Homo sapiens: one gene and its partners. The protein of the gene in region 5 interacts with the protein of the main gene of each other region in a pairwise test. Each region holds a gene or a part of one and is shown on either strand. Other genes may lie near its edges. The genes, in order: ATL1, TEF, ZNF366, FOXA2, DNM2, FBXO42 and UBASH3A.

What was found.
Region 1: the proteins of DNM2 (region 5) and ATL1 interact in binary tests that used the Homo sapiens proteins (3 or more experiments, as listed by UniProt).
Region 2: the proteins of DNM2 (region 5) and TEF interact in binary tests that used the Homo sapiens proteins (3 or more experiments, as listed by UniProt).
Region 3: the proteins of DNM2 (region 5) and ZNF366 interact in binary tests that used the Homo sapiens proteins (3 or more experiments, as listed by UniProt).
Region 4: the proteins of DNM2 (region 5) and FOXA2 interact in binary tests that used the Homo sapiens proteins (3 or more experiments, as listed by UniProt).
Region 6: the proteins of DNM2 (region 5) and FBXO42 interact in binary tests that used the Homo sapiens proteins (3 or more experiments, as listed by UniProt).
Region 7: the proteins of DNM2 (region 5) and UBASH3A interact in binary tests that used the Homo sapiens proteins (3 or more experiments, as listed by UniProt).

Annotation. Positions count from the first base shown.
Region 1 is NC_000014.9:50,566,645-50,570,144, forward strand, and holds part of ATL1 (atlastin-1), read left to right. Parts: intron 1-3,500.
Region 2 is NC_000022.11:41,388,442-41,391,941, reverse strand, and holds part of TEF (thyrotroph embryonic factor), read right to left. Parts: intron 1-3,500. UniProt on the Homo sapiens protein: Transcription factor that binds to and transactivates the TSHB promoter. Binds to a minimal DNA-binding sequence 5'-[TC][AG][AG]TTA[TC][AG]-3'.
Region 3 is NC_000005.10:72,458,911-72,462,410, forward strand, and holds part of ZNF366 (zinc finger protein 366), read right to left. Parts: intron 2,601-3,500; 5' UTR 2,587-2,600; coding exon 1,255-2,586; intron 1-1,254. UniProt on the Homo sapiens protein: Has transcriptional repression activity. Acts as a corepressor of ESR1; the function seems to involve CTBP1 and histone deacetylases.
Region 4 is NC_000020.11:22,581,773-22,585,920, forward strand, and holds the start of FOXA2 (hepatocyte nuclear factor 3-beta), read right to left. Parts: upstream 2,801-4,148; 5' UTR 2,507-2,800; coding exon 2,420-2,506; exon of another isoform or gene 1,971-2,419; intron 1,383-1,970; coding exon 78-1,382; 3' UTR 1-77. UniProt on the Homo sapiens protein: Transcription factor that is involved in embryonic development, establishment of tissue-specific gene expression and regulation of gene expression in differentiated tissues.
Region 5 is NC_000019.10:10,773,579-10,777,078, reverse strand, and holds part of DNM2 (dynamin-2), read right to left. Parts: intron 1,377-3,500; coding exon 1,173-1,376; intron 1-1,172. UniProt on the Homo sapiens protein: Catalyzes the hydrolysis of GTP and utilizes this energy to mediate vesicle scission at plasma membrane during endocytosis and filament remodeling at many actin structures during organization of the actin cytoskeleton.
Region 6 is NC_000001.11:16,314,481-16,317,980, forward strand, and holds part of FBXO42 (F-box only protein 42), read right to left. Parts: intron 2,248-3,500; exon of another isoform or gene 1,957-2,247; intron 956-1,956; 5' UTR 939-955; coding exon 689-938; intron 1-688. UniProt on the Homo sapiens protein: Substrate-recognition component of some SCF (SKP1-CUL1-F-box protein)-type E3 ubiquitin ligase complex. Specifically recognizes p53/TP53, promoting its ubiquitination and degradation.
Region 7 is NC_000021.9:42,417,402-42,420,901, forward strand, and holds part of UBASH3A (ubiquitin-associated and SH3 domain-containing protein A), read left to right. Parts: intron 1-999; coding exon 1,000-1,208; intron 1,209-3,500. UniProt on the Homo sapiens protein: Interferes with CBL-mediated down-regulation and degradation of receptor-type tyrosine kinases. Promotes accumulation of activated target receptors, such as T-cell receptors, EGFR and PDGFRB, on the cell surface.

The DNA of each region.
Region 1 (3,500 bases), on a different chromosome or scaffold from region 5:
TGCCCATTTTAAAATTAGGTTATCTTTTTCTTCTTGCTTTGTAGGAGTTTTATACATATTTTTTATATAAGTCCTTTGCTGATTGTCTTATAGATCTCTTTTACCACTTTTTGCATGACTTTGATCTCTATGGTGTATTTTAATAAACAGACATTATGTATTTAAACGTAGTCCATTTAAACAATATTTTCCTTTATGGCTTGTACTTTTTATATTTAAAAAAATCTTCTCTTACCTCAAAGTTATAAAATCGTCTTCTATATTATCTGGTTTTAAAATTTTACACTTCATTTTTTTTCAGTTTTTAAAATTTGTGGTAAAATACACATAACATAAATTTTACCATCATAACCATTTTTAAATGTACAGTTCCGTGATACTAGTACACAAGTAAAATATTGTTGTGTAGCTATCACCACTGTCTATCTCCCGAACTCTTCATCTTGCAAAACTGAAACTCTGTGCCCATTAAACAGTAACTCCTCATCCCTCCTCATGGCTACTAGCAGCCACCATTCTACTTTCTTTCACTATGACTTTGACTACTCTGTGTACCTCACGTTAGTGGAATGATACATTTTTTTTTTTACTGGCTTTTTCACATAGCAAAATGTCCTCAAGTTTCATCCATATTGTAGAATATATCACAACTTCCTTCTTTTTTAAGGCTGAATAGCATTCCGTTGTAAGTATACACCACATTTTTTTATCCATTCATCTGTTGACAGACACTGGGTTGCTTTCACATTTTAGCTATTGTGAATGATGCTTCTATGAACATGGTGTACAAGTATCCCTTTGAGACCCTGCTTTCAATTCTTTTGGGTATATACCCAGAAGTGGAATTGCTGGATCTTATGGTAATTCTATTTTTAATGTTTTAAGGAACTGCTATACTGTTTTCCACAGAGGTTGTACCATTTTATGTTCTCATCAACAGTGCACACAGGTTTAAATTTTTTCATATCTTCGCCAACACTTGTTATGTTCTGTTTTTTAAAAAATAGTTGTCATTCTAATGGATGTGATGTGATATCTCATTGTAGTTTTGATTAGCAATTAATATTATGATTTCTCTTGTGATTTTTTCTTTGATCATTTGTTGTTTAAGAGTGTGTTGTTTAATTGCCACAAATTTGTGAATTTTCCAGTTTTCATTCTGTTACTGATTTCCAACTTCATCTCATTGTGGTTGAAGAAAATATTTAGTATTATACCTATCTTTTTAAAATGTATTGAGACTTAATATGTGGACTCCCTTATAGTCTATCTGGAGAATGTTCCAGGTACACAAGAGAAAAATGTGTATTCTATTGTTGTTGGCTAGAATGTCTGTATTTGTCTGTTAGGTCTAATTGGCACATTGTGTTGTTCAAGTTCTCTATTTCTTTGCACGTCTTTATTTCCTTTTTGTTTGTTTGTTTTATCCATTATTGAGAATAGGATATTGAAGTCTCCAACTGTTAGTATAGAACTATTTCTTCTTTCAATTCTGTCAACTTTTGCTTCATATATTTTGATACAGTGTTCCTAGGTACATAGATTTTTGTCATTGTTATATATTCAAATGCCGTATTAAAACTTTTATTAGTATATGATGTCCTAGCCAGGTATGGTGGTATGCACCTGTAGTCTCAGCTATTCCAGAGGCTGAGGCAGGAGGATCCCTTGAGCCCAGGAGTTTGAGGCTATAATGTGCTATGATTTGGCCTGTGACTAGCCACTGTACTCCAGCCTGGACAACATAACAAGATATTGTCTCTAAAAAAAAAACCAGTTCTTTGTTTTCTGTTAACTTCTGTGGTTTTTTAAAGGCTATCTTTTCTGATATTAGTATTGCCACCTCTACTCTCTTTTGGTTTATATTTACGTGGAATATCTTTTTCCACCCTACCACTTTCAATCTGCTTGTGTCTTTGGATCTAAAGCAAAGCTCTTATAGACAGCATAGAGTTGGATCATGTTTTTAAATCCATTCTGCCAATCTCTTTCTTTTGATTGGAGAGTTTATATCTGTTTACATTTAAAGTAATTACTGATAAGGTGTGACTTCTTTTGTTTGTCTTGCTGTTTTCTATTTGTCTTATAGCTTTTTTGTCTCTCATTTCCTGCATTACTGCGCATTACTCTCTGTTGTGTTCAGTTGATTTTTATAGTGTAATGTTTTAATTCGCTTATCATTTCCCTTTGTGCACATTTTTCTAGCTTTTTTTTGTGGTTACCATGGAGATTACATTTAACATTCTAAAGTTGTAACACTCTAATTTGAATTTATACTAGTTTAATTTTAATAACATACAAAAATTCTTCTCCTTTACATGTCCATCCTCACCCCTTTCAGTTATTGGTATCATAAAAGTATACATATTGTGTGTCCAAAACACATAAACTAGTAACTGTTTTTTTAAAATGCACTAGTTTCTCAGCTGGGCATGGTGACTCATGGCTATAATCCAAGCACTTTGGGAGGATGAGGTGGGAGGACTGCTCGAGCCCTGGAGTTCAAGACCAGGAATTCGGGTCAATATGGCAAAACCCTTTCTCCACAAAAAAAAAAATGCAAAAATTATCCAGGTGTGGTGGTGCATGCCTGTAGCCCCAGCTACTCCGGAGGCTGAAGTAGTAGAATCACTTGGGCCCAGGAAGTTGAGGCTGCATTGAGCCATGATCATGCCACTGCATTCTAGCTTGGGCAACAGAGAAAGACTCTGTCTCATTGAGCTGTGATCATGCCACTGCATTCTAGCTTGGGCAACAGAGAAAGACTCTGTCTCAAAAAAAAAAAAAATACATTACTTTCTTAAATTATATAGAAAACAAAATGTGGAATTACAGACCAAAATTACAAGTATTATTATATTAGCTTTTGGACTTACAGTTTTTTTTAAAAGTATTAGTCTCTTAAACCATATAGAATACCAAAGATGAAGCTACAAACTGTTGTTAAAATAATACTACCTTTAATGATTGCCCATGTATTTACCTTTACTGAGATTTTTATTTCTTCATGTGGCTTTAAGTTACTGTGTAGTGTCGTTTCATTTCAACATGCAGGACTGATTACCATTAGCATTTCTTGAAAGGCAGGTCTAGTGGTAACAAACTCCAGCTTTTGTTTATCTGGGGATGTCTTAATTTATTCCTCATTTTTGAGGGACAGGGCTGCTGGATATAGGATTTTTAGTTGACAGGTTTTTTTTCTTTCAGCACTTAGACTATGTCTGCCCACTGCTTTTTTGCTTCCAAAGTTTCTGATGTGAAATTTGCTGACAATCTTGTTAATAATCCCTTATATGTGATATGTCACTTCTCTCTTGTTGTTTTCAAATTTTTCTCTTTGTCTTTGGCCTTTGACAGTTTGATTATAATGTGTCTCAATGTGGGTCTCTTTGAGTTCATCCTACTTAGAATTTGCTGAACTTCTCAGATGTTTATCTTTCATCAAACTTGGAAAGTTTTCAGCTATTATTCTACAAATAATCTCTCTGCCACTTTCTCTT
Region 2 (3,500 bases), on a different chromosome or scaffold from region 5:
GATATATAAAAATGTCAGATGGGCCAGGCGTGGTGGTGCACACCTGTAATCTCAGCACTCTGGGAGGCCGAGGCGTGTGGATCACGAGGTCAAGAGATCGAGACCATCCTGGCCAACATGGTGAAACCCCGTCTCTACTAAAAATACGAAAATTAGCTGGGCGTGATGGCATGCGCCTGTAGTCCCAGCTACTCAGGAGACTGAGGCAGGAGAATTGCTTAAACCCAGTAGGCAGAGATTGCAGTGAGCCAAGATGGTGCCACTGCACTCCAGCCTGGCGACAGAGTGAGACTCCCTCTCAAAAAAAAAAAAAAAAGTCAGATGCCGGCCTGGTGTGGTGGCTCATGCCTGTAATCCCGGCACTTTGAGAGGCTGAGGTGGGTGGATCACCTGAGGTCAGGAGTTCGAGACCAGCCTGACCAATACGATGAAACCCCGTCTCTACTAAAAATACAAAAAGTAGCCGGCCGTGCCTGTTATCCCAGCTACTCAGGGGGCTGAGGCAGGAGACTCGCTTGAACCCGGGAGGCAGAGGTCGCAGCGAGCTGAGATCACACCACTGCACTCCAGCCTGGGTGACAGAATAAGACTGTCTTAAAAAAAAAAAAAAGAAAAGAAGATCCTGCAATGCATAGGTCAGTCACGCCTCCAACCCCAACAAAAAATCATCTGGTCTAAATGTCAATGGTGCTGCTGATTCTGACTTTTATCCTGAGATAGAACACCTGGAGGGCTCTGGGCAGAGGTGTGGCATGATCAGACTTAGGCTTTAATTGGATTATGCACATAAATTCATTGTATCCTATTAGACAGGGGTTAATTACAGAGACATCTGAGTGTCAGAGGAGTGAATGACCAGGGACCCACATGGTAACTGTAGGCAGTTTCGGGCATGCCAAACCTAGTACCTGCAAGACAAGCAGCTCAGGTACCTACCACATGAGAATGTTGTTCAAAGTGACGCCATGCCTGGGTGCCCTTCAGCAACAACCAAGTGGCAAGATGTGGTTAAGTTTCAGGGACAGGATAAGAGAAAGCCGCAGGAAACAAAAGGGGAAAATTTGCAAAGAGGCCTGGGGACAAGATTTTGAGGAATTCTCATTTCCCCATGGATACCTCTATGAACAAATTCTAGAAAATGACAATGAGGGCTGAGCGCAGTGGCTCACGCCTGTAATCCCAGCACTTTCCGAGGCAGGTGGATCACCTGAGGTGAGGAGTTCAAGACCAGCCTGGCCAACACGGTGAAACCCTGTCTCTACTGAAAATACAAAAATTAGCCAGGTGTGGTGGTGGGCGCCTGTATTCCCAGCTACTCAGGAGGCTGAGGCAGGAGAACTTGAACCTGCGAGGCGGAGGTTGCGGGAGCCGAGATCGCACCACTGCACTCCAGTCTGGGTGACAGAGTGAGACTCCATCTCAAAAAAAAAAAAAAAAAAAAAAAAAGATGACAATGAGACCTTAAAATGACTTTGCTGGAAGAAGAGGGAAAGGGAATAGATCTGTTGGTAACTTGCCTGAAATATAATTCTCTCATAGGTCCACCATTACAAAAGATGTCAAAATCAAAGGCTGACAATGGAACTCCAATGCCCTGCTGGTGTGAGTACAAATGGATATAACAACTTTGTACGCTATTTGGCAGGGTCTACACAAACTGAACATATGCATGTCCAATGACCTAGCCATTCTCTTCCTAAGCAAATGCCCAAAAGAAACGCATATATATATTTACCAAAAAACATGTAGATGGGCCAGGCACAGTGGCTCACACTTGTAATCCCAGAACTTTGGAAGGTGAGGCAGGTGGATCACCTGAGGTCAGGAGTTTGAGACCAACCTGGCCAACATGGCAAAACCCCATCTCTACAAAAATAAGCCAGGAGTGGTGGCGCACACCTGTAATACCAGCTACCTGGGAGGCTGAGGCAGGAGAATCGCTTAAACCCAGGAGGCGGAGGTTGCAGTGAGCTGAGACCCCGCCACTGCACTCCAGCCTGGGCGACAAAAGCAAGACTCCGTCTCAAAAAAAAAAAAAGACATGCACATGAATGTTCATGGCAGCATTATTCATAACCAAAATCAGAATGTCCTTCAACGGTTAAATGGATAAGCTGTGGTACGTTAGTACAATTGACTACTATTCAGCAATGAAACTTAACAAAGCGGCTGGGTGTAGTGGCTCATGCCTGTAATTTCAACCAACACTTCGGGAGGCCCAGGTGGGAGGACTGTTTGAGGCCATGAATTTGAAACCAGCCAGGGCAACACAGTGATACCCTGACTCTACAGAAAAAAAAAAAAAACTTTTATTTATTTATTTTGAGATGGAGTCTTGCTCTGTCACCAGGCTGGAGTGCAGTGGCGCCATCTCGGCTCACTGCAACCTCCGCCTCCCGGGTTCAAGCGATTTTCCTGCCTCAGCCTCCAAGTAGCTGGGATTACAGACACGCACCACCATGCCCAGCTAATTTTTGTATTTTTAGTAGAGTCGAGGTTTCACCATGTTGGCCAGGATGGTCTCGATCTTTTTTTTTCTTTGAGATGGAGTCTTGCTCTGTCGCCCAGGCTGGAGTGCAGTGGTGCAATCTCGGTTCACTGCAAGCTCTGCCTCCTGGGTTCACGCCATTCTCCTGCCTCAGCCTCCCGAGTAGTTGGCACTATAGGCACCCGCCACCACACCCGGCTAATTTTTTGTACTTTTTAGTAGAGATGGGGTTTCACCGTGTTAACCAGGATGGTCTCAATCTCCTGACCTCGTGATCCACCCACCTCGGCCTCCCAAAGTGCTGGGATTACAGACGTGAGCCACTGCGCCCGGCCTGTAAAATACCATTTATGAGACAACTTTGGAAATCTGAATGTTGATGGATTTATTGTCAACTTTAGATGTAAAACTAGTATTTTCGTTATGTTTTTTTTAAAAGAACCCTTATATTTTAGATACATATTGAAATACTTATAATTTGATTGAAAATAACTGCTTCTGAGTTGAGAATTGTTGAAGCTGGGTGACGGTTACATAGAGGTTCATTATAGTCGTCTCTTACTTTTGTATTTTGTTTGAAAAAATTTCCACAATAAAAAGAAAAAAAAATAGAGTATGAGAACTTATTGGGTGTGGATTCCTGGGGTGACATACCGACTGGCAGGAGCTATCAGCCTGTATGCCTCAGAGACTGCAGAAAGCTTTGCAGAACCCCTGCAACAGGAGCCATGTCTCCTTTGGTAGGTTCGTGTCCAAGGAGCATGAAAACAAACCCCCAGAGATAAAATGTAAAAGGAGGAGGAATAAGGACAGACTCTGAAGATGATGTTTGTCCTGGCCAGGTGGTGGGAATGCTTTCTTTTTTTTTTTTTTTTGAGATGGCGTCTCACTCTGTTGCCCAGGCTAGTAGGTAATGGAGGTAGCACTTGAATAGTGCTTATGCCCTGGCACAAAGAAAGCATTCCCCACTTTGGGAGGCCAACGTAGGTCGATCACCTGAGGTCAGGAGTTC
Region 3 (3,500 bases), on a different chromosome or scaffold from region 5:
TCTTCATATGCTCTAAAATGCACTTTTGATTCCTTTCCCACATATAAAGGAGCCCCTGAAGTTAGCGAATGGTCCCCTTTACGGCTGAATCCCAGTCTGGGTCCTTTGTTGATGGTTCCTGCACTTGGCAGGCGACTCCCCTCTGGATAGTATCTACAGGTACCTTTTGTAGGGCAGGAGCTGTTTGTGCAGAGCCCACAAGGCAGCCACACATTTCATCTCTGTGGCAGAGCCAGAAAATACCCTGTGTTTTGTCCTAACCTAAGAAGTGAAACGTATTATAGCACAGCAGAAACATTATCTTGGCTGGGCAAAGTCCTCTCCTGACCTTTCAGAATTAAAGAATGCTTTAGAAACTCTGGCTTGCTAGAAGTCTTTCCTGCCAAGAAAACCACTTGAGGTTAAGGGTGTGAGAGTGGGAGTCAGTGGGGGCAAAACTCCCTCTCGGAGGCTCAGAGCAGGTTCCATACTTTAGCTGGGGTAAGATTTCAGGAACACCACTAGGGCCTTGTTTTAGTTCAGCCTGAATGACTCCAGGGCTATGGTTGCAAACTGGGCTGAACTCAGACTCTTGGGCCTGTATTTCCCCTTGAAGACCTGAGCACAGAGAAGATCAAACAAAACCAAACAGAGAAGGATGCTTTCTCATGCCTCCTACAATGTAAACCACAGGGCACTTCACCCAGCTAGGCACGGGTCCAACGCAGGGAGGTATAGGCCCTGCCGGCCTCAGCCAAGCTCTGCTTCCCTTGGAGAACTTGCATATGAAGCAGGTCTCACAGTTGAGGGAGAAAACAATCCAAAAAGTTTTCCACTGCTTCAACAGTACAAGACGAAGAGAATTATCCAGAAGGTGCTCCCTGGCACATCCCAGGCACAGAGCTGATCTAGGGTCTGATGACTTACTCATGCTAGTGCCTTGGATGAAGTTTCTAGAAACCGAATCTGCAAGATTCTTGGAGGCTAGGGAGCATCCTTCCTCATCTCCTCTGCAAATGTCTGCATTATTTATTTCTAGGCCTACCTTAGAGTCTAGAAGGCTGCTGGGGCAAAGGGCTTGGTCGAGAATCGTTCTCTCTTATTTAAACGTGAGGAAGGACCTCAGGGCTCGGCCAAGGGACCGCTTGTCCGGGGTTGCCCACCTCCTCGGGGTAAGGTGCAGAGCGGCACAGGCGTCCTGCTCCCCAGTGCTCTGCTCAGGGCCCCGCTCCTCTTCCCAAGGCCCCGTCCGCCCCACCAGAGGCCCCGCAGTACCTTGTGGGTGAGGGAGTGCTGCTTGAGGTGGTGCGGCTGCACAAACTCCATGCCACACTCTGAGCAGATGTAGGGCCGGATGTCCTTGTGCTTCATCATGTGGTTCTGCAGCTGGCTCGGGTACTGGAAGGTCTTGTCGCACTCGGAGCAGTTGTACTGGATGGGGCCCCGGTGCGTGGTGAGGTGTCTCTTCAGCTGGGCCAAGGTGGGGAAGTCGAGGCCGCACTCCACACAGATGTTCTCGCGCCCACTGGCGTGCTTGGCTTCGTGGGCCTTGAGCTCGCTGGGGTAGGCAAAGCCGCGGCCGCACACGCGGCAGTTGTGCGGCTTCACCTCGCTGTGCTGCATCATGTGGCGCTTCAGGTGGCTGGTCTGGGTGAAGGCCTTGTGGCACACCTGGCACTTGTGGGGCCGCGTGCCCTGGTGGGTCAGCATGTGGGTATGCAGGTGGCTGAGCTGCTTGAAGAGCTTCCCGCAGTGCGTGCACGCGTGCGGCTTGATCCCACTGTGGCCCAGGATGTGGGTGACCAGGTTGTACTTGGAGGTGTAGGACTTCTCGCAGGTGGGGCACTGCCAGCGCTTCTGCGAGCCGCCCACGTCCACGTAGTAGCTGTCATCGATCTGCACGTTCACGTCCACCCTCTCCACCTTCTGCTTGGTCTCCTCGCTCTCCTGGGGCTCGGCTTTCCGGGGCAGCAGAGGTTCCGGGGGCTGCTTGGGCAGGAAGGTGTGCCGGCTGAAGGGGAAGGGCGAGGACGAGGGCACGAAGAAGGGGAACATGAGGCCCGGGTGGACTTTGGGGTAGTAGGGGTAGGGCGTGGGCAGGAATGGAGTGGGCGTTGGCTGGGGCCACACGGCGCTGGGCTTAATGGGTTCCTGCTTGACGGGCTTGCCCCCAAAGTGTTCCAGGCTGCGGTAGAATTGGAAGCCCACGTTGCACAGGTCGATCATCTGAGAGTCATACTTGGGGCGCGGGGGCTGCGGGAACAGCAAAGGGAGGTTGGGAAGGCCGTGGTTTTTGTTCTCCTCTGAGTGGAGGGCGAGGGTGACTTCTTCTGCAGGGTGGTTATAGGGCATCTTTGTGGGCATGCTCTTCCGTTTCCTAGACCCTGCTCCTTCGAAGACCCCGGGGAACCCATCTAGGTCTCCTGGGGGAGGTTCATACCGAAACTGGGAAAATGGCCCTCGGAGAGCTTCCGGGAAGGGGTGTCTTTGGGGAGCCTTTCCCCGAGAAGCCACTGGCTGCAGGCAGTGGGGAAAGGAGGGGGTCTTCTTCACAGCCAAGTCGAAATGCACATCCTCGTCTTTGATCATCTTCATTTCCTTCTGCATCCTTGGCAATTTTCCTTTAAAGAGAAAGAAACTTGTGTGTTTTGGTTTGGTTTTGTTTAAAATTCTCTTTTTCCTTAAGGATTATGGCTATTTATCAGTACTAATTTATGAAGAGTAGTACTTGCTTAATATGGACCCTCATTTATCCTAGGGCTGTTCAAAATATCGCTTTTCTTTCTCCTTGCAAACCCAGTTATCAATATGGATAGCACTGGCCTCTTGGGGTGACCCTAGGGCTGAATCAAATTGGGCTCCAGTGTAAATCCAGCCACAAAACCACAAGGGGTGATGGTAGCAAGGGAAGTGGACTAGTTTGGGAAGAAACCTGAGAACTCATCTGGCCATTGTCCCCATTTAAGATCAGGGTACCAAAGTCCAGATAAATGAAATGACATTCTCAAGTTACATAGGTACTCACTGAAGGAGTGAGCACTAGACCCATTCTGCTGCAGCTTTTCAATCTGAGTTGTAATTACATCTACTAATGGTGATTGGAAAGTGACTTTTAGGGTCTTTTCTTTGTGTAAGGAAACCAATTTTCACTGCTACTCCCTTGCTTGGGCCTTTGCTGCTGGAAAATGAGGATATTCAAAGCCTCATAGGAGAAGGGATGTTAATGCTTAACTCAGATCTAATCGTTTCTGAGTATCCACTCTGAGTAAGGTGTGCTACTAAGGCATAGGGAGTGAATGACATAAACATGATTTTAAAAAGCATATTGAGTAGCTCAATGTTATAAAGTCATCCTGGCAATGTACACATTCCACTCTTAAACCTGAAGCAAGCTGGAATGAAATATTCCTTTATTATGTGAAATAAAGCCGCACATGGGTCTCTCCTTTCAGACAGGTGTCAAAGTAAGGGGCAGGCTTGGTGACTCCTGTGGTGCCTGACATGTCCCCTGCTGACACAGC
Region 4 (4,148 bases), on a different chromosome or scaffold from region 5:
TCTCGACCCCCACTTGCTCTCTCACTTGTCCTCGATCCGGGGTGCCAGAGTTAGCCGGGCCTGAAGCCGTCGTCTTCTTAAGAGGAGTTCATAATGGGCCGGGAGTACACCCCCTGGTAGTAGGAGGTATCTGCGGCCAGGGGCGAGGCGTCCAGGCCCGTTTTGTTCGTGACCGGGCCCATGGCCAAGCTGCCAGGCATGGGGGAACCGTAGCCGGGGTAGTGCATCACCTGTTCGTAGGCCTTGAGGTCCATTTTGTGGGGTTGGTGGTGGTGGTGGCTGTGGTGGTGCTGCTGCTCCGAGGACATGAGGTTGTTGATGGAGAACGGGTGGTTGAAGGCGTAGTGGTGTTCCGGCTTCAGGTGGGCCTCAGGCGGCAGGCCCGGGTGGTGGGGCGGGCCCAGCAGGTGGGCCGCGGCCTGCTGCTGCTGCCCGGGAGAGGGCGCCGGCTCTGGGGGGCTCAGCGCCGCAGCCGGCGTCCCCTTCAGCTCTCCCAGGCCCCCTCGCTTGTGCTCCTGGCACGGGGAGGCGCTCGAGTGAGGCGACTCGGTGCCCGCCGGAGTCTCGGAGGCCGGCCCGGCGGCCTCCCCGAGTTGAGCCTGTGAGGCCTGGGCTCCGGCGGCCGCCTTCTTGCCGCTGCCGGCGGCGCCTGCGGCCTCCTTCAGCGCCAGCTGCTTCTCGCACTTGAAGCGCTTCTGGCGGCGCAGGTAGCAGCCGTTCTCGAACATGTTGCCCGAGTCAGGGTGCAGGGTCCAGAAGGAGCCCTTGCCGGGCTTGTCGGGCGAGCGGGGCACCTTCAGGAAACAGTCGTTGAAGGAGAGCGAGTGGCGGATGGAGTTCTGCCAGCGCTGCTGGTTCTGCCGGTAGAAGGGGAAGAGGTCCATGATCCACTGGTAGATCTCGCTCAGCGTCAGCATCTTGTTGGGGCTCTGCTGGATGGCCATGGTGATGAGCGAGATGTACGAGTAGGGCGGCTTTGCGTGCGTGTAGCTGCGCCTGTAGGTCTTGGGGTCGCGGGCGCGGCTCAGGCCCGCCTGCCCGTACATGGGGCTCATGGAGTTCATGTTGGCGTAGGGGGCCAGGCCGCCCATGGCCCCGGCCGCCTGCCCCCCGAGCGGGCTCAGGCTGGGACTCAAGTGCGGCCCCATGCCCGCCACGCCGGCCGCCCCGGCCGAGCCGCCCATGCCCGCCATGGCGCCCGCGCCGGGGGACATCCCCGCCAGGGACGGGCTCATGCCAGCGCCCACGTACGACGACATGTTCATGGAGCCCGCGCTCATGTTGCCCGAGCCGCTGCCCATGGCGGCCGCCGACATGCTCATGTACGTGTTCATGCCGTTCATCCCCAGGCCGGCGTTCATGTTGCTCACGGAGGAGTAGCCCTGCGGACAGAGCCCCGGGAGGGAGGCGACAGCGTTAGCACCGCGGCTGGAGGGTGCCCAGACCTCCCACCCACCGCCCAGGCCTCCGCGTCCGGGGAGGCCTCCGGGGAGCCCTTTCGTCCCCGATGGCCCAGTCTCCGGACTCCGAGTCTGTTTCATTCAGGGAGAGTCATGATCGATCGCCCTTGGGAAGGTGGCGAGCGGATTGCTGCTTGGGCATGTGGCCCGTTCCTAGCCCTTCTCCACCTCGCCCAGATTCTAGAACAGGGGTCCCATGGAGTACTCCCAAGCCAGCACCCCAAATACATTCCCCTACCCCAGAGTCTCCCCAAACTCTCCCACCAGCATACTGAGCTGGCGCCGAGGCCCGAAGTCCCCGGACGCCACCTCCGGTCGCAGCAAGCAACCTGCGGGACAACGCGCGGGGCGCCTCGGGCTGCCTCCAGCGAAGACTGTCCCGGGCCCCCTCTGTCCGGTCTCCCTCCAGGGACCCCCTCCCTTGTCCCAGGGAAACTGCAAGGCAGTGCCTGTGCGGAGTGCGGGGGCGGCTGGAGGCACTGAACGGGGCAATAGGGAAAGAACCGAGACCTGAACCACACGCGGCTGAGCTTTGCAGGCAAAAACTTTCTTTCTCTTTGTCCACTAGTCTTTGACTCTGCCTCCACTTCAGCCCCCAACTCCTACCCATCTTCTCCTCCTCAGCTCCCCACCCCCTCGCCGGCCGACCTCCCACCCCTCCCCAGCCGCGCGCTGCCAAACATAACTCTGTTAGGATAGTGCGTGGCTCGGCCACGAAGAGGATTTGGAGGCGCCGCAAGTCAATATTTGATCACAAAGTTAATATTATCTCAAGGCTAACAGTGTGTCGTATAAAAAAGAGACCCATTTGATTCCAAGGAGGGCGGAAAAGGCGGCTGCCCAGAAAGGCTGGGGTTGTGGGGCGGGGTGGGGGGGTGCCAGCGAGGGAAGCGGTCCTGAGGTTGGGGAAGGAGCGAGCGCCGCCGCTCCACTTCCCCCTGGAAAAGACGAGCGCTTACCTCGGGCTCTGCATAGTAGCTGCTCCAGTCGGACGGCTCGTGCCCTTCCATCTTCACCGCTCCCAGCATACTGGAAGCCGAGTGCATGGCAGTTTAAAATTTAACAGCCACAACAAACGACCAGCAATCACCCCCCACCCCCACCCTCTTTTAAAAAAAAGTCAGCCAAAGCACCGTCCCCTCCTCCCTCCCTCTCTCGCGCTCCCTCTCCCTGGGCTCCACTCCCTCTCTCTCCCTGGGCAGGCCGGAGGCGGTAGTTGGAAGTGGGCGGGAGGTGGGGGGGGGCGAGGAGCGGAGGAGGCCCAGGCCAGCGCCCCGCGGTAGGGAGCACCCGCCGCCGCCGCGCTCACGGGCTGCCGGGTGGCGGCTGAGGTTGGCAGTGCCGAGCTGCCCCGAGGCGGCGGGAAGCGCGCGGCGCGGGGGCTAGTGGGGGGGTGGGGAGGAGGAGGAGGAAGGAGGAGGAGGAGGCGGTGGTGGTGGTGGAGGAGGAGGAGGAGGAGGAGGAGGAGGAGGAGGAGGAGGAGGTGTGGACCGCGGAGCGGACAAGTGCCGCAGTGACGTGGGAGGCTGGTGATATAGCGCGGCGCGCTGGCGCGGGCCTCCAATCCCCAGACCCGGGGCAGCCCATTTGAATAATCAGCTCACACCTAGGTGAGAGGTAGCCGCAGCCGGCGCTCCGCACCTGCCCCTCAGCGCCTGCCGTCCGCCCCACCGCCGCGGCGCCCCGCACTCCTGGGCGGGCCAGGGGAGCGGGCTGGGCGGGCGATCGGGCACGCGGGATCCCTGGTCGAGCCCCCTTTCCTCCCGGGTCCACAGCGAGTCCCCTGAGGAAGGAGGGACCTGGGAGGAAACCACCCTCTGGGGCGGCTCCGGCCTCCAGCCCCCGCCCCGTCTCATCGCGCCGGGCGCCCGGTGCGCCTGTCGGAGGGCGCGTCCAGCCTCAGTGCCCGGCAGATCCCTATGAAAGCCGGATTTATTTATGCCGGGTTTCTTCGCTCTCAGTGCTCATTCTCTGTCAAAACAGCAAGTCCATGACAGCCAATTTGCAAAGCGCTGTCCTATTTAGAAAAACTACGTACACACCTTTAACTCGCCCGCTGCTGCTCCTGCGAGGCCCCTCCCTGTTACAGTTCAGACCCGGAACGGCCTCGGGAGAAGCGCGGGGCGCACGGTCTGGCCGCCTCGGCTCTCCGACTCCTCAGACACCGGCCGCCAGGGACCCGCAGTGGGGCGGCCGGCGCCTGGCGCAAGCAGCCCCTCTAGCAGCGGCCGACGGTTGGGAGGCTGAGATTTGTCTCTGATATTCAGGCCGGCGTGTTTCAAGGTTACTTTTCAGTCACAACCGAGGTGCCCACAGCATTTCGTAACTAAAACAAACAGGGCAGGAGGTGGGGAGGGAGGGGTGAGGAGAGAAGAATCCAGGAATCAATGATGGGGCATATGGAGTTGACTTCAAGAGCGTCTCTGTCCTCTCTGTCTTCCAGAGGGACTGCTTAATAGAAATTAGAAACTCCAGCAATCGTATACTTTTATTTCCCCAGCAGCTCTTGGGTTCAAAAATTGTCTTCTGTTCTGGGTTAGCCTGTGAGCCCAGATTTGGAGTGGGGGGATATTGCAGGTGTTTGGATGTGGAGGCTCTTTCTTGGTTCTGAAAACCTGGCTGGACCTTGGGGATCCAGCCCTGTACCCACCCCCTCAGACACAGAGAATGCATAGGAACTAGTGGGCA
Region 5 (3,500 bases):
AGGAAAGAGCATCAGCTGGCAGCTGCAAGCCACCTGGGGTCCAGTTGGCCCTGAAACTTCCAGGTCACATCACCTGGGAAAGCCAGAACGTCACAGGCCTGGACCCCAGTTTCCGACATGTCGAATGAAGATGGTCACAGCCCTGATCTCACAGGGTGGTCATAAGGGTGAGCCTGGCACACGGCAAATACTCAACAAATGCTGGCCGTTATTGTCATTTGTGTTATTAAGGACAACCTCTGCTGCTGCAGGCTTTGGGAAACCTCACGTAAACATGATTCCTGGGCCAGATTTTGATGCTGGACTTTCCAAGTGCCGGCAAAGTCCCAAGGGAACATTTGAGTTTGACACGACTGTTTCCAGGACTACCTCTTGCCTGAATGGCTAAAATTCCACTCTGGAAACCATCCCATCCAATTCCACCTCTCCACAAGTCATTCCAGAGTCAAGGATGTCTTTCTAGCAAAGTCTCACCTCTGCAGATCAACTGCTCCCACGGGGGCTGAGGGCCTGGCTCTGTGCTAACCGTGTGTGTTATATGTGTGGCATGTGCATGAGACACTGGGGACAGATGGAAGCCAGAGTGAAGATCTCTGGTGGGTGCCAATTTGGGCATCAAGGGGGCCACAGCTGTGCCCTCCCTGGGGCCCCTTCCTGCTCACATTCTGCAGTGAGGGTTCAGTAGAAGGATCTGACTAGAGGGGCCCAGGGGTGTCAACTCGAAGGGAAATAGACGATCTCACCATGCAAAGATCAGAAACAACCCAAAAGTTCAACAGTCCTCACATCAGCTATCTGGGTTAGGACTGAAGTTCCCGTTCTGACTAAGAGGGGACCATGTCTCAGGGAGCAGAGTAACAGCTAGATGGGACCTAAGATCGCATCTGGGCGATGGAGCGCTGGGCCCTTCCTTCAGCCCTAGGCTAGCTTCCCACTCTGGCAACATGGGCACTGCCATGTCCAAGGAGGACCGTCCAACTGCCACACAGTGACTTCCCAGGGGATGCCCACCAGCACTGCTGGTTCTCGGAGGAAGTGCCATGTTCCAGGAGGCCTTTTCCTACAGCGGCCATGGATTAAAGAGAACGCCAGTGACTTGGAACCAAGGATGCTGGGCACATCCCATGCTCAGAGGCACCTGGAAGAGGGGACTGCCCTAGGCTCAGGGTTACCTTGGGGATCGACTTCCTTGGCCAGCTTGAGGGCGTCGGAGTTGGCCAGGTCCATGTTGGCGGGCGTGACAGCCAGAATGAGGCTGCTCTCCCGGCTGATGAACTGCAGGATCATGTCCTTGATCTGGTACTCGATGTCTGGAGGCTGGTCGCCCACAGGCACCTTGGTGATACCCGGGAGGTCGATGAGGGTCAAGTTCAACACTGGGAGGGAAACCAGAAGGAAAGGCATTCAGAGCCAGGAGAGGGGAGGCACAAACAGGCCCGCAGCCACCCAGCTGACTACCAAAGTTCCTGCGCGGGGCTCAGACTTGAGGATGTCGCCTGACACTCTGCCTGAACCACACCTTTGATCCAGTAACTCCCCTTCTAGGATCCCATCCTACAGATACCTTCTACCTACTCCATTTCAATGGCACAGTTCTAAATCAGGACAGTTCAGACTGGAATAGACCTAAATGACTGAATAAATTTCAGCCCATCCATTCAGCCAATACCAAAGAACCATTACAGACAAACAGATGAGGCTGGGTGCGGTGGCTCACATCTGCAATCCCAGCACTTTGGGAGGCCGAGGTGGGTGGATCACTTGAGGCCAGGAGTTCTAGACCAGCCTAGCCAACATGGCAAAACCCCATCTGTACTAAGTATACAAAAATTAGCTGGGCGTGGTAGCACACACTTGTACTCCCAGCTACTCTGGAGGCTGAGGCATGAGAAACACTTGAACCCAGAAGGTGGAGGTTGCAGTGAGCTGAGATCATACCACTGCACTCCAGCCTGGGCGACAGAGCAAGACTGTCTCAAAAAAACAAAAACAAAAGACAAATGGATGAGGCCAGGCGCGGTGACTCATGCCTGTCATCCCAGCACTTTGGGAGGCCATGATGGGTAGATCACTTGAGCTCAGGAGTTCGAAACCAGCCTGGGCAAGATGGCGAAACCCTACCTCTACCAAAAATATAAAAAATTAGCCTGGCATGATGGTGTGCATCTGTTGTCCTAACTACTCAGGAGACTAAGGCGGGAGGATCGCCTGAGCCCAGGAGAAGAAGTGAGCCAAGATCTCACCACTGTACTCCAGCTTGGCCAACAGTGTTAAACCCTGTCTCAAAAAAAAAAAAAAATAAATATATAATAAAGAAACATTCTGAGAGGCATACAAAAAAAAAAAAAAAGCATAGGCCAACGCAGTGGCTCACACCTGTAATGCCAGCACTTTGGGAGGCCAAGGCAGGCGATCACCTGAGGTCGGGAGTTCGAGACCAGCCTGACCAACACGGACAAACCCCGTCTCTACTAAAAATACAAAATTAGCCGGGTGAGGTGGCGCATGCCTGTAATCCCAGCTACTCAGGGGGCTGAGGCAGGAGAATCACTTGAACCCGGGAGGTGGAGGTTGCGGTAAGCCAAGATTGCACCATTGCACTCCAGCCTGGGCAATAAGAGTGAAACTCCATCTCAAAAAAAGCATAAGTGATTTTTATGTTATGCTAACAATTTAAGGAAAAGGAGTGATAAACACATACACAACATATACATAGATACAATCACAATTGCTTACATGTTTTTTGCTTACACATTTTTTTTAAGATAGAGGGTCTTGCTATGTTACCCAGGTGAAGTGCAGTAGCTATTCACAGATGTGATCATAGCTCACTGCAACCTCGACTTCCTGGGCCCAAGTGACCCTCCTGACTCAGCCTTTCAGGCAGCTTGAATGACAGGTGTGTGAAACCACACCCAGCTCATGTTTGCATTGTCATCTGAAGAACCTAAAATATGTGTGCAAAACTGGTTGACAAGGTAGGTTTTTGCGATATACCTTTCTGTAATTTTTGAATTCTGAGCCACATGCAGGTGTCATTTATTGAAAAACAAATTTAAAACTTATCGCAAGGAACCCATCATGGTAGCAATCTGTGCCTCTGGGCCAGAGGATGTCTATGGCCCCGGGCTGCTGTTTGAATGCAGAGTTTTAAAATCAGGATATTTGGCTGGGCAAGGTGGCTAAAACCTGTAATCCCAGCACTTTGGGAGGGGGATGCAGGCGATCACCTGAGGTTAGGAGTTCGAGACCAGCCTGGCCAACATGGTGAAACCCCATCTCTACTAAAAATACAAAAAAGTAGCTGAATGGGCTGGGCGTGGTGGCTCACGCCTGTAATCCTAGCACTTTGGGAGTCTGAGGTGGGTGGATTGCCTGAGCTCAGGAGTTCGAGACCAGCCTGTGCAACATGGTGAAACCCCGTCTCTACTAAAAATAAAAAAAATAAAAAATAAAAAAAAAATTAGCCAGGCAGGGTGGTACACACCTGTAATCCCAGC
Region 6 (3,500 bases), on a different chromosome or scaffold from region 5:
TCTATAAAATGCAGGATCTTCTAGTCAGAGTTTGCTGTGAGAATGTAAAGCAGTTACAATAGTGCTTGACACGTGATAAAAGCTATGTTCACATTGGCTATTACTATTATCCCATATCCATTTCTATTTTGCCCATTCAAGAACAATACAATTAATCCATTTGGGACGCTGAGGCGGGCGGATCACGAGGTCAGGAGATTGAGACTATTCTGGCTAACACAGTGAAACCCCGTCTCTAGTAAAAATACAAAAAATCAGCCGGGCGTGGTGGCAGGCGCCTGTAGTCCCAGCTACTCTGGAGGCTGAGGCAGGTGAATAACATGACCCCGGGAGGCAGAGCTTGCAGTGAGCCGAGATTGCGCCACTGCACTCCAGCCTGGGCGACAGAGTGAGACTCCGTCTGAAAAAAAAAAAAAGAAAAGAACAATACAATTAACCAGATCAACTCTAAGAATATGAAGCTTTTAAAAACAATCCTCATTTTAAAATGCAAATGGGATTAGATACTTCAGTATTCAAGCTGTTCATTAAACTAACCAGGGTAAGAAAGAAAACCGGGTAGTATCGTCTAATGCTAGATTTTATAACCATAATACATTTAAGGGAGGAAAAAAACTAAATTTGGAGTCTAAAAATAAATCAGTGAAATTTGAAATCAATAAATAAACCTTTCTCCTATCCACAGTACCTTTGATAAGTCGATACCACTGTTTGCAGACAAGGGCCGCAGTTTTGTGTTCCTGATACGGTGAGAGAAAGGACAGGATATACTCCAAAACCTCTTCTGGCAGCTCCGACATGGACCTATTATGTCTAGTCTCCTCAGCCTCCAATACTGGGTGGGGCTCCTCATCTTGATCCATTGTCCCTTCCAGCACAGTTTCTTCCTGGTCCACAGCCATGAAACTGTCATCTTCACTGTCCGAGGAGCTGGCCATGACATTCCACTCAACAGCTGTAATAGGTAAAACATAAATATCAGTATTCCACTGAAAGCAGCTCAAAAACAATTCAGGCATGTACATCCAAGCTCTTTGTAATTTCGTTTCCACTCTCAGTGTGAAATCTGCTCTTCAGCACTTTCCAATACCACTTGTGAGCCACCTTAATTCGACAGGTACAGCTCAAATACCAAGCCCATCCCCAAAGGCTTTTGATTACATTTTTTCTCTTCACTGAAAACCAGAGTGGCAGCCAAGTTCTGGTATAATCGTAAACCAGAAAACTTGTTCTCCAACAATTCTTCTAACTCAAGGATCTGACTGACCGACAGCAAAGGGAAGAGCAACTAGCCTCCTTGGCCAGTAACAATGATCTAAGACCTCAAATTTTGAAGGAAAAACTAACTCTGGGTCTTGCAAAAAGTAATAACATTCTGAGAATATGGGTTAAGAAATAACCGTTTTTCGACCAGGCATGGTGGCTCAAACCTGTAATCCCAGCACTTTGGGAGACCGAGGCGGGCAGATCACCTGAAGTTGGGAGTTTGAGACCAGCCTGACAAACATGGAGAAACCCCGTCTCTACTAAAAATTGAAAATTAGCTGGGCATGGTGGCACATGCCTGTAATCCCAGCTACTCGGGAGGCTGAGGCAGGAGAATCACTTGAACCTGGGAGGCAGAGTTGCAGTGAGCCGAGATCATGCCACTGCACTCCAGCCTGGGCAACAAGAGCAAACCTCCATCTCAAAAAAAAAAAAAAAAAAGAAAGAAAGAAAAGAAAGAACAGTTTTTCTAAACTTTTATGCAAGACGATTCACTTAACCTTTTTCCTGTTTGCCCGGAGAATACTTGCCAGCGGTGCCTGCAACTGTGGTGTTTACCCCGAGATAACTTTGCCACAAAATATCTCTTTTGTTACTGTTTTCACATCGCTCTAGTACATCAACTTTAGAAACAAAAGACATCATTCTATTTATAGCATTCTGTTTTTAATAGTGGTTATTTCCACTTACAAAATATAGTAGTTCTTGGTTGGGTGCAGTGGCTCACACCTGTAGTCCCAGCACTTTGGGATTCTGAGGCCGGCAGATCACCTTAGGTCAGGAGTTCGAGACCAGCGTGGGCAACATGGCGAAATCCCATCTCTACTAAAATACAAAAATTAGCCAGGTGTAGTGGCGCGTGCCTGTAATCCCAGCTACTCAGGAGGCTGAGGCAGGAGAACTGCTTGAACCTGGGAGACAGAGGTTGCAGTGAGTCGAGATCATGCCACTGCACTCCAGCCTGGGACACAGAGAAAGACTCTCAAAAAAAAAAAAAAAAAAAAAAAAGATAGTAAATGTTCCAAGAATAGACTTCACTTGCTAAAATACCAAATACAAGGCAGTATTTACAATAGAAAATATGAATCATTAAGAGATCCAGGCAGTAAAAAACTAGAACAACATGAATGTCTATCAACAACAGAGCAAATAAATTGTGGTACATTCGCCATGAAATATAGAGCAAAGAACCACAGGTTATATACATATAAATAAATCTCTCAAACATAATGTTAAGCAAAAGAAGATAGAAGGCCGGATGCAGTGGCTCACGCCTGTAATCCCAACACTTTGGGAGGCTGAGGCGGGCGGATCACCTGAGGTCAGGAGTTCAAAACCAGCCTGACCAACATGGTGAAACTCCGTCTCTACTAAAAAATACAAAAATTAGGCCGGGCGCAGTGGCTCACACCCGTAATCCCAGCACTTTGGGAGGCTAAGGTAGGCAGATCATCTGAGGTCAGGAGTTCAAGACCAGCCTGGCCAACACAGTGAAACTCCATCTCTACTAAAAATGCAAAAATTAGCTGGGCGTGGTAGCGTATGCCTGCAGTCCCAGCTACTAGGGAGGTTAAGGCATGAAAATCACTTGAACCCAGGAGGTGGAGGTTGCAGTGAGCAGAGATCACTCCGCACTCCAGCCTGGGCAATAGAGTGAGATCGTCTCAACAAACAAACAAACAAACAAAAATCCAAAACTTAGCCAGGCTTGGTGATGCATGTGCCTGTAATCCCAGTTACTTGGGAGGATGAGGCAGGAGAATCACTTGAACCTGGGATGCAGAGGTTGCAGTTAGCCAAGACTGGCCACTGCACTCCAGCCTAGACAATACAGCAAGACTCCATCTCAAACAAGCAAACAAACAAACAAACAAACAAACAGAAGACAGAAGAATGGGCAGGCACAGTGGCTCATGCCTATAATCCCAACACTTTAGTAAGCCAAAACAGGAGGATCATTTGAGGTCAGGAATTTGAGACCAGCCTGGGCAACAAAGTGAGACACCATCTCTACAAAAAAATAATTAACCGGGTGTGCTGGCACACATCTGTGGTCCCAGCTACCCAGGAGGCTGAGCAGGAGGATCACTTGAGCCCAAGAGTTTGAGGCTACAGGAAGCCATGACCACACCACTGGACTCCAGCCTGGGCAACCGAGTTAGACCATGTCTCGAAGAAAAAAAAAAAAAGAAGAAGAAGAATATATACTATACGATTACAATTATATCAAGTTC
Region 7 (3,500 bases), on a different chromosome or scaffold from region 5:
CAACAGAGCGAGACTGGCAAAAAAAAAAAAAAAAAAAAAAAAGACAGAAAGGAAAGGACTATTGTAAAGATCTATGAATACATGTTTTGCTTATTAATTCTTTTTTATTTATTTATTTTTTAAATGTAGGGGCCATGCTAATCTTCTCTGCAGCATTCCAATTTTAGTTATATGTGCTGCCAAAGTGAGCACAATTCACTTTAAAGAATGATTTGAGTGAAACCTCATTCTGGGACTTCCTGCCCATGAATCGATGGGTTTAGAAACGAAGTGTGTGATGCTCCTTTCAGACCCAGAGAGCACGTGTGAATGAATCCACCATGTTCTGTATCGTATGAGGTGTCAATAACCTCACACCGAGGAAGGCGGATGTGAAAGTCTGCTTATGCCTTCAGATCTTTTGTAGACAAAAAAGTACCTAGATGGATGGATGATGGATAGATCCCAAAATGTATCTCTTTTTTTTTTCTTTTTTTCTTTTTTTTTTTTTTTTTTTTTTGAGAGGGAGTCTCACCCTGTCACCCAGGGTAGAATGCAGTGGAGTGATCTGCGCCCACTTCAACCTTCGCCTCCCAGGTTCAAGTGATTCTCCTGCCTCAAGCTTCCCAAGTAGCTGGGACTACAGGCACCCGCCACCATGTCCAGCTAATTTTTGTATTTTCAGTAGAGACGGGGTTTCACCATATTGGCCAGGCTGGTCTCAAACTCCTGACCTTGTGATCCACCCACCTCGGCCTTCCAAAGTGCTGGGATTACAGGCGTGAGCCACCGCGCCTGGCCCCAAAATGTATTTCTAAATCTATCCAAAGAATTCTATGCTGCGTTTCATTACATTCTGTGCTATATATTGCCAGACAAAGCTTTGGATGGAGTCTTGGAGACACAGAACACATTGGAGGGGCAGAAAGCAGGAGGTGGCAGGTGATAGGCCTCCTATTGCTGCCATTTTCCAATGTAAATCTTTGCTCGAGACGTGAAACCCCTTTGCCTCTTTTCTAGACCCTGAGAGCCCTATTCCAGTACAAACCCCAGAACGTGGATGAGCTGACGCTAAGTCCTGGTGACTACATCTTTGTGGACCCCACGCAGCAGGACGAAGCCAGCGAGGGCTGGGTGATTGGGATCTCACAGCGGACGGGCTGCCGGGGCTTCCTGCCGGAAAACTACACGGATCGAGCCAGTGAGTCTGACACGTGGGTGAAGCACAGGTGAGTGCTGCCTCTGGCTGCAGCCCCGTCATCTCTCTCTGAGTTACTGTGTGAGAGTGCCCACCTGCCAACAGTGTGCTTCTAGACCATTCCATTATTGGTAAAATTGCATTCTGTATGCTGACAAAATTATTCCTGCAGGTATATAGTAAACATCTTGGTTCGTCCCTGGTTTTCTGATGATAACATTCAAAAAAGAATGAATTACTCTGCATTAGAGTAATTTGAGATGGTAATCCCCAAATTACTGCAAAATACTACTTCTTTATCACACACATAATAAATTATACTCAGAGGTCCTGAGCTTGGGTTTATTTATTCTTCTGCTCCGTGTATGAAATGTAAAGTCCTAGGTCGTATTATTAGTTTTCTATGACTGTATAATAAATTACCACTAAAACAAAGTGCAATTATTATCTTATGGTATTTATGGGTTGAGAGTCAGAGTCCAGCTTCACTGGGTCCTCAGCTCGGGGTCTCAAGGCTGTAATCAAGGTGCCTGCCAGGGCTGGGCTCCCCACTGAGGCTTCACACCCTCGCCTGAGCATACACAGTTGTTGGTGGGAGTGATTTCCTTGAAGCTGTAGGGCTCCTGGTGAGTTGCTTCTTCATCAGCTGAAGAATCTCTTAATTTTAGCACCTTTTAGCATCATCTGGTGAGGCTAAGGATTTTCAGAATCATCAGATACTGGTTCTTTTTTGTTCGATGTTCTTCCCTCAATTTATCTCTTTCCTCTCCCGCTTCACTATAAATAACATGAAGAAACCAGGTGATACACTTAACACTTTGTTTGGAAATAGCCTTAGCTATGTGACCAACATCATCGCTTACAAGTCCTGCTCTCCATGGACAATTTCATTAAACTCTCTGGCACACATGGGAAGGATCCTCCTTGCTCCGATTTCCTGGAACACCTGTCACATTCCTTTCTGAGTTCTCCCCGGAGGATTCACCTTTAGCATCCCTATTTCCTCTAGCAGTCTGTTCATGGTGATTTGGGCTTTCTCTGCTGTGCTACTCAAAAGTCTCTTAGCCTCTACTCGCTGCCAAGTCCCAAAGTTGTTTCCACATTTTAAGTTCAGAAGGTTTCCAACTTACAATGGTTTGGCTTAGGATTTCATAATGTTACGAAAGTGATATGGGTTCAATAGAAACTGTACTTCAAGTGCCCATACAATCATTCTGTGCTACATTTTCAGTACAACATTCAACGAATTACATGAGATACTCAACACTTGATTATAAAATCGGCTTTGTGTTAGATTATTCCGCCCTATCATAGGCTACTGTAAGTGTTCTGAGCGTGTTTAAGGTAAGCTAGGCCAAGCTGTGATGTTCAGTAGGTTAGGTGCATTAAATGCATTTTCAATTTATGATGGGTTTGTTGGAACATAACCCCATCTGAAGTTGAAGAACATCCACTGTTTGTTAGAGTAGCACCCCATTCCTGATACCAAATTTAGTAAAAGTTTAACCAGAGATGCAGAACCAGTCACTTTCATACAATATATAATACATATAAGTATATGTACAGTTGTCCCTTGCTATCTGCAAGGGATTGGTTCCCGGACCCCCACAGATACCCAAATCCTCATGTTCTCGAGTCCCCGATATAAAATGCTGTAGTATTTACATGCAACTTATGCACATCACCCTGTATCCTTTAAATCATCTCTAGATTACTTGTGATATGTAATACAGTATAAATACTATGCAAATAGTTGTTATACGGTATTGTTTTTTATTTGTATTTTTTAAATTGTATTGCTATTTTTTAATTGATTAATCTTTTGAATATTTTTGGCCTGCAGTTGGTTGAATCCACAAATGCAGAACCTCCAGATACAAAGGGCTGACTATACATACATAGTATTTTATATTATATACACATGTATCACACACATATATATATGGAAAGGTATATATGTATACACACATCTATATTGATTTACTACAATGAATTGCCTTATGGAATTACTGGGGCTAGCTAAGCAAGGGCAGACAGGCAGGAAGGGAGGAGCCTACTTAGGCTGAAAACCCATGGGCAAGCTGAAGCTTGTTGTCCACATGTGGCAGTTGGAAGGACCACCCGGGTGATGGGAGAGCAGTCACAGACACAGCTGCTATTGAAGTCTCTGAGTGTGAGGAAAGCCTAAGTTTTTAAAAAAAAATGCCTTCCAACTGCATAAGTCAGACCTGCTCAGAATAACCTTGCTTTTGATTAATTTAAGCTCAACTGATTAGGGGTTCTAGTCACATTTGTAAAATCTCCTTCCAGCAGCACCTAGACT